Linked DNA regions of Homo sapiens. The protein of the gene in region 1 interacts with the protein of each later gene in a pairwise test. Each region holds a gene or a part of one and is shown on either strand. Other genes may lie near its edges. The genes, in order: MOBP and WAC.

The links.
Region 2: the proteins of MOBP (region 1) and WAC interact in a two-hybrid assay, tested with the Homo sapiens proteins (one large-scale study listed by BioGRID).

Annotation. Positions count from the first base shown.
Region 1 is NC_000003.12:39,465,996-39,470,586, forward strand, and holds the start of MOBP (myelin-associated oligodendrocyte basic protein), read left to right. Parts: upstream 1-1,684; 5' UTR 1,685-1,745; intron 1,746-4,591. UniProt on the Homo sapiens protein: May play a role in compacting or stabilizing the myelin sheath, possibly by binding the negatively charged acidic phospholipids of the cytoplasmic membrane.
Region 2 is NC_000010.11:28,606,111-28,609,938, forward strand, and holds part of WAC (WW domain-containing adapter protein with coiled-coil), read left to right. Parts: intron 1-2,075; coding exon 2,076-2,321; exon of another isoform or gene 2,322-2,332; intron 2,333-3,828.

The DNA.
Region 1 (4,591 bases):
CACAGTCAGTACAACACAAGCAAAATACTGGCATCACAGTGGGAGTGAATCAACCAGCATACGTCTATAACTCATTACTCAGAGAATGTTTAATTAACTATAAAGTTAGTATACGAAGAGGCCAGGCACGGTGGCTCAAGCATGTAATCCCAGCACTTTGGGAAGCCAAGGCAGGCGGATCACCTGTGGTCAGGAGTTTGAGACCAGCCTGGGCAACATGGCGAAACCCTGTCTCTACTAAAAAATACAAAAATTATTCAGGCATGATGGTGGGTGCCTGTAGTCCCAGCTGCTCGGGAGGCCGAGGCAGAAGAATAGCTTGAACCCAGGAGGTGGAGGTTGCAGTGAGGTGAGAGCGCCACTGCACTCCAGCCTGGGGGACAGAACCAGATTCCGTCTCAAAACAAAAACAAAAACAAAAATGTTAGTGTACAAAGAGATTTATAGTCAATGTTTGTAGTCTCACTGGATTACCTTTTCAAGGTTCCCTGGCTGATTCTTTACTGAGACAAGAGCCTAAAGAGAAACTTGGTGGTAATGTTGACATTTATATTACACTGTCATGGAGGGGGCGCTGGGAATTCAAAAGGCAAGGCTGCTGTTGGTTGGATTGGTTTCAGAAGTAAGCTTTCATCTTTCAAATCATTAGTGGGTAGTTCTAGTTCTACATATATAAAATAAATAGCAGAAGCAGAGTTACAGGACCCATGGCATTTAACAGAGCACAGAAAGGTGTGGCCCCACATTTTAGGTTAGGAAAATTATAAGAAAATGCCGGTGTCTAAGACTGAAGCCAATAAAATGTTAATTGAATGAGATTTATCATTCGCAGAAACTGTTCAACATAAGAGATGATTTATACGTGTTTTCATAAATGTGAATGCATAGGGTAATTGTCATGGAAACTTCCAAATTCAATGTTAGTTGTAACTAGACTGGATTAGACTCTTGCTAATCAAGTGTACAAGGGCATGCTTGTGTGAATTTTAGTTTTGGGGTGTATCTATGGGTATACATGAGTGTTTTAGGGAAGGAAGTGTGATCGGTATTTAATCTACATGGAGTATAAAAACTCCTGGAATTTGTCAATGTGATTGCAGCTGTGTTCATGGCTTATGGGTATGGCTTGTGATGTGTGAGTGAGGTATGGGGTGCTGGGTGGGATGGCGCTGTGGTGGCATAGCATGTTGGTGGAAGGGTGTGTGGTTTGGTAGGGTGAGCTGGTGTGTGGTGTGGTTGGACCTGGCATGGAACTTAACTGGAGTTTATGTGGAATGAACCTTGAGGGGTGAGTTTTCACATGGGGTGTTGATTATGTGGGAGGTGGGAGGCTGGAATATGTGAATGTTGGGGGGCTGTAGAGTGAATGTGGGGTGCGTGTGTATGTGTGTGTGAGATATGGTTATAGCTTAGCTTAGCTTTTGTTTAGATTTTCTTTTGCTCTTTGTTTTTGTCTTTGGCCTTTGTTTTATCTTTGTTTCGCTCTTTGTTTAAACTTTCTTTGGCTTTTGTTTGGTCTTTCTTTAGCCTTTTGTTTAAACTTTGTGTGGCCTTTTTGTAGTCTTTGTGTAGCTTTTGTTTTTAAGTGGATCTTCGCTGAGGACTCATCAAAAACACCTTGTGTAATGAAAAACCCAGATCTATAACCTCTCCCTATATATTCTGCATGCATTGAAGTAGGCTCAAACCCTCAGGGACCTGGTATAGACGCAGAATCTGTTTCACACAACAACTGCTATTTGAAGGTAAGAGGATTCCATTGGTTTTTATTTTACTTCATTTTATACTTTCATCTTTAAATGACAAGTGTACTTTTTTGTATGGGCCATTTCATTATATCCCAGGGAAAACTTTCTGTAAGAATAGTCAAGATTGAGAGGACATACAAGGATGGAGAAAACAAGAACAGAGGACACCATGTTTATTCTGATGTGGGCAGGGGGCCTCCTGGAATGTTCCTGCTAATGTTTGGAAATCGTCTGAGCCCAGAGAGAGGCTCTGAGCCCTTACTCAGATTTCCTCAGATTCAAAGCCCCATGTTCCTGGAGCTAGATGGATGGTAGTACATGCTGCTGCTGCTGCTGCTTTTTTTTTTTTAATTTATTTCTTCTTTTATTATTTGTCATGATTTAAAAATGAGTTTTTCTTCTTATCTAGGAACAATTTTTTTCCTCATACAGTTGGATTTATGTGTGGGGGATCTTAATGGAACAACAAAGCCCAAATCTTTTCGGAATTCTGCCCCCTGTAGACCAACAACCTTAAATGGAAAGGCGCTAATGCTTTGTCTGATACAGAATATCTTAGAAACAACAGGGAGTTTTCAGTTCTATGGATGACAGAGAAAGGAAAAAATATTATGTGTCAGGGAGGCGAGTAATGAACTTGGCCTACAGTACTAGCAGGAAAACGGGGAAAGGACTTTTTAATTCTTTGTGAATAAATCAGGGAGGCAGAGAGCAGGCTGCTGCCAGGTGTGCGGATATGCTGTTTCGTATTTAGAATGACAGGAAACTTGTTGGTGAGTGAGTTTTAAAAATTGTTTCAGATTTTCAGAAAAGTTGCAAACAATACAGAAAATTTCAGGTGCAGCCAAATTACCCAGATGTTCCTGTTTTACCATATTTCCTTTATCATTCTCTTTCTCTCTCTCTGTATCCATACATATGGGTGTATATATAAAAATATGTGTGTGTATATACATATATACATATGTGTGTGTATATACATATATACATATGTGTGTGTATATATACATATATACATGTGTGTGTATATATACATATATACATGTGTGTGTATATATACATATGTGTGTGTATACATATTACATATGTGTGTATATATACATATATACATGAGTGTGTATATATACATATATACATATGTGTGTGTATATATACATATATACATATGAGTGTGTATATATACATATATACATTGTGTGTATATATACATATATACATATGTGTGTGTATATATACATATATACATATGTGTGTGTATATATACATATATACATATGTGTGTATATATATACATATATACATATGTGTGTGTATATACATATATACATATGTGTGTGTGTATATACATATATACATATGTGTGTGTATATATACATATATACATATGTGTGTGTATATACATATATACATATGTGTGTGTGTATACATATATACATGTGTGTGTGTGTATATACATATATACATGTGTGTGTATATACATATATACATATGTGTGTGTATATATACATATATGTGTGTGTATATGTATAGATATATATACATATGTGTGTATATGTATATATACACATATTTATATCTAATTAATTTTAATTAAAATTTATTTTAATTGGAATTAACTAAAATTTATTTTAATTGGAATTAATTAAAATTTATTTTAATTGGAATTAATTAAAATTTATTTTAATTGGAATTAATTAAAATTAGAAAATTACTATTGAGAAAATACTGTTTTTAAATCTAGAGATATCTAGATTTCATCAATTGTCCAAGGAGCGAATTGAGAACCATGCATGACCTTTTGTTGTCCTGTCCCCTCAGCCTCCTTTAGTCTGGAACCACACCTGAGGCAGCTTTGACCTAGACAGTTTTGGAGAGTATAAGCCAGTTATTTTGCTAAATGTCCCTCAATATGGGTTTGGTCTGCAGTTTTCTCACAATTATGCAGTTTTCAAAGGAATAGGCTTGCATTTTAGATCATACATATCCAAATTCATACTTGAATCTGAGTATACAATTTTTAAATTCAAGATCTTGTTTACCTAATAGTTACTAGGATTTTAAATGAGTACCTAAAATCTTTGTACACCAAATTGCCAAAAATTAAAAATCTAGAGCTTTTACAGATAATTTCCAAGGAATCACCAAAAGTGTGTAAGTATTGCCCTTGGATTATAAATAGCAATTACAGTGACCTGTATGTGATCTTATAGGCTTAAAGTGAGGTATTCAATTTAGATTCTTTGTGTGTGTTGGAGTCATGTCTACTGCTCTCTGAGTATTAGTTTCATAAATATAATAATTCCTTTCTAAGTGCAACCATCTGCTGAAAGCAGATACAACTCAATAGAGTTTCCCTGGGTAGCCACTCCAGGCTGGCTGGCATCCTTTCGCGGGTTGACGGGGACGTCTGCCCTAGTGGAGGAGGCGGACCTCTGGCAACGCTGCAAAAAGTCTCCTGATCAAAAGTGTTTCCTACATGTTCTAGTACTCACACCTCAGCACTGAACTACAGACCACACCCATATTGAGGGACAACTAGCAAAATAACTGGCCAAAACTGTTAAAAACTGTCCCCTTATGGGGACAGGAATCAAAACTCTGAGATCCTTCAGCTGTACCAGACATTCGTAAAACAAGTCTTCTCAACAAAATCTGTGAGGTAGGAACTATCATTCACATTTTACAGAGAAGAAAATTGAGATCCAGAGACTAGCCTATGATTACACACAGCTAGTGAATGACAGAGCCTGGAACTCAAGTATGATATAAGCCTATTGAATTTATGGATGAGATGCATTATTCTTTTTTACTAATACATCACACACTTTACTTTAAAGTTACAA
Region 2 (3,828 bases), on another chromosome or scaffold:
GCTGAATCACGGCTTAATGCAGCCACGACTTCGTGGCTCAGGTGGTTCTCCCACCTCAGCTTCCTGAGTAGCTGGGACCACAGGCGCAAGCCACCACAGCTGGCTAATTTTTTGTATTTTTAGTAGAGACGGGGTTTTGCCGTGTTGCCCAGGCCGGTCTTGGAAATCCTGGGCTCAAGCCTTGCAAAATGCTGGGATTATAGGCGTGAGCCACCACGTCCATCTGACAGCAGAATTTTCGCAAGGAAAACATTTATCGTTTTATTTGAGTTTCTTTATGCTTGTCTATGAATCCAGAACAGTAAAGCTGAAAATAATAGGCAGTCTGCTGGATTCAAGCACCTTCCTTTAAAAGTGTATACCCTTACGCAAATAAAAATATCTTAGTCCTTCTGAGTTCATCATGGTTAATCAACACATTTTTGAAATGTACTTAAATCAGCTGTGAGATCCACACTTTAGAGAGCTATTATCCCTAGTTCTTTCGACCATTATAGTAGTGTAAAAAGACTCATAGGGGAGTCTGTTTTCAATAAGCTTGCTAGTACTGTATATATGATCTTGAAAATCTTAAAGAAATAGGTTGTTTCTAGTTTTATACTAAAAGCAAACAGAGTGCTGTTGTGATAGTCTTTGAATTTTCTCCTGATTTACATATATCTGAGTTTCACTGAGGGTGTGTACCTAAAGGGGAATTACTGGGTCATGTAGTGTTCGTATCTTCAACTTTTCTAAATAATGCCAAATTACTTTCCAGTGTGGTTATATCAATTTATTATCCATCAGAAATGTTGAGTAAATGTTCTCATTACTCTTTGCCAACATTTGGTATGTCTGACTTTAAAATTTTTGCATTATGGTGAGTGTAAAGGGTTATGTTGCTTTATTTTACATTGTCCTGATTCTGAATGAAGTTGAGCATCTTTTCTTGAATTTCCTAGGCATTCAAGTTCCTTCTTTGAAATAATGTCTTCTGTACATTTTTCTATTGGGCAGTTTGTCTATTTTGACGTATAGAAATTCTTTAAATAGTCTGATTACCACTACTTTGAATATAATTGTTCTGCTTTTTGTAACTTTACACATCTGCTTGGTGTTATGGATACCTTTCTGTGTTTTCCTCTAAGAGTTTTAAAGACTTAAATACCTACACAAAAGTTCAGTCTACCTTTAACTGGCTTTGTTTTAAATGTAAGTTTTTATATTTGGCAGGGCATGTCCTGCTGGCAGTGTTCTTTTTCTTCAGGTTATGGAATCTTCAGGATTTATGTTACTAGCTTGTCAAATAGTATTAACAGTGCTCTTGGGGCTTTGATTACAGTTACATTAAATCTATATAAATAATTGAAACAACAGCTTTCAAATAATTTTCCATGCGTATTTTATACATCCTTTATTTCTAAATACTATGAGGTGGGTTGTTTTTAATATTAAAGTGTCCTTTTTAATAATCTTAAAATGAAACAAATAGCTCATTGCCTTATATATTGAATTACAAAAGGGAAGTATGTAGTTACAAAACTCAGTTATTAAGTATAAAAGTCTCTTCTCATCACATCTTTAGCCCATTTTGGGTGTAACCACCTTGGTGTACCTACCCTGATTTGTATTAAGACCAGTGTCTTATTGAGGTAGGTTGTTACTGTGGCCATAAACATTTTTCACCTTATTTCATGAGATATAAATTAAATCCTGTAGAATTATATTGTCCTTTTATCCTAATGGAAGCTTATTTGAATGTGTGGTTAATAAATAATTATCTTTGAGATAGCATTGGTGGTAGACAGATTGGTACTTTTCAAATCAGATATGGGTATGATTTACCAGGTTTTATGGCTTCAGGTTATCTAACCTTTCTTGTTCAGCTTTCTTACCTATGAAATAGGGTGAGAAATGTCTAAATCATTATTCTAGTCATGTGAATGTTTACTGAGCATCTTCTGTGTGCTCCAGTGTGTAAGGGTTAAATGAGATTACTTACGTTAGGTGCCTGGCACATGAGAGGTGTTCCTTTGATGTTTGTTCCAATTTTCTCTATTCAGGTAATTTTTCAGGCTGATTATCTTTTTATTTAGAATCTACATCAGGAGACAAACCCGTATCACATTCTTGCACAACTCCTTCCACGTCTTCTGCCTCTGGACTGAACCCCACATCTGCACCTCCAACATCTGCTTCAGCGGTCCCTGTTTCTCCTGTTCCACAGTCGCCAATACCTCCCTTACTTCAGGACCCAAATCTTCTTAGACAATTGCTTCCTGCTTTGCAAGCCACGCTGCAGCTTAATAATTCTAATGTGGACATATCTAAAATAAATGAAGGTAAATCTTCATAACAGTTTTTTAAAAATTTATTTGCATTGTGCAAAGTTATGTAAGTAGTAAAATCCCCAGTTTAGGAATGGTCTTTGTTTTCTTTTGAAATTTATAGTTGAACACTTTTTTTTGTTTTGTTTTTTGTTTTTGGAGTTTGGAAATTTATATCCACTGTAGTTTAAGACCATTGGTAGTATAATTGAGTTAGTGGTGCTTGGATCTTGTGTATATTTTTCAATACTTGTTATGTGTCTGGTAGTTACTGGAGGTAAGCCATTCTATATACATAATGTGTATGGTGAAATTTTACATTAAAACAATCGAGCGTTTGTTGAAATCGGTATTAAAACTTCTGGTATGTTTCTAAAAAACCTGTATAAATAATTACTCAGAATATTTAAAATATGCTAATTACTAGAAAAGTAGGAATTCAGGTAGCTACTTAAAATACTTTCAAAAAATTCTGAGAAGGGAGGAGATAGGTACTAGATAAAATGTTGCCATTTTTTTCCTGGTGAATTGCATTATTTAATTCCAGCCTTGCTTTTCAGTAATGCTACTTACGTTTCAGAATATTTAGTCAGCCACTTTGAAAAAGTATGAATAAAAGTAGATGTGTTAATTTGGAAACTATTCAGATTCACACGTTAATTCCTAAAAGCACTGCAAAATTTTCTGTTGAAAATGATAAATTTTTAGGCCGAGGCGGGTGGATCACCTGAGGTCAGGAGTTTGAAACCAGCCTGACCAAGATGGTGAAACGCTATCTCTAATAAAAATACAAAAGTTAACCAGGCGTGATGGCACATGCCTGTGAATCCCAGCTACTCGGGAGGCTGAGGTACGAGAATCGCTTGAACCCAGGAGACGGAGGTTGCAGTGAGCTGAGATGGTGCCTGTACACTCCAACCTGGCTGACAGAGCAAGACCCCATCTCAAAATAAATAAAAATAAAGTGATCAATTTTTATGTACATTTTCACATAATATACTTAAAAGTAGTGTTAAGTGGTTAAGTTCTTATCCTAAAAATAAAGCTATCTCAGGCTAGTTGGTCATTAGTCTGTTCTTACTGTCCTTAATTTTTTTGTATTTTTATTTTATTCTCTAACCACGCAGTTCTCTTGTGTGGTAGGTAAATGTTTCATTTAGGCAAAGTGGGGCTTTTAGATAGTTTGAGGAGGCCAGATGCAGTGGCTCATGCCTGTAATTCCAGCACTTGCTGAGGCTGGTGGGCCACTTAAGCCCAGACCAGCCTGGGCAACATGGTGAACCCCATCTCTACTAAAAATACAAAAACTTAGCCAGGTGTGGTGGTGAACGCCTGTAGTTCCAGCTACTTGGGAGGCTGAGGTGGGAGAATAACTTAAGCCTGGAAGGTGAAGGCTATGGTAAGCTGTGATTGCACAACCCTGTCTCCAAAATAAATAGTTGAAGAAATAATAGTTAATGTCAATAATAAAATATCTTACACATCAAAAATACATGGTATTCCTAAATACTTTTTTTTTTTT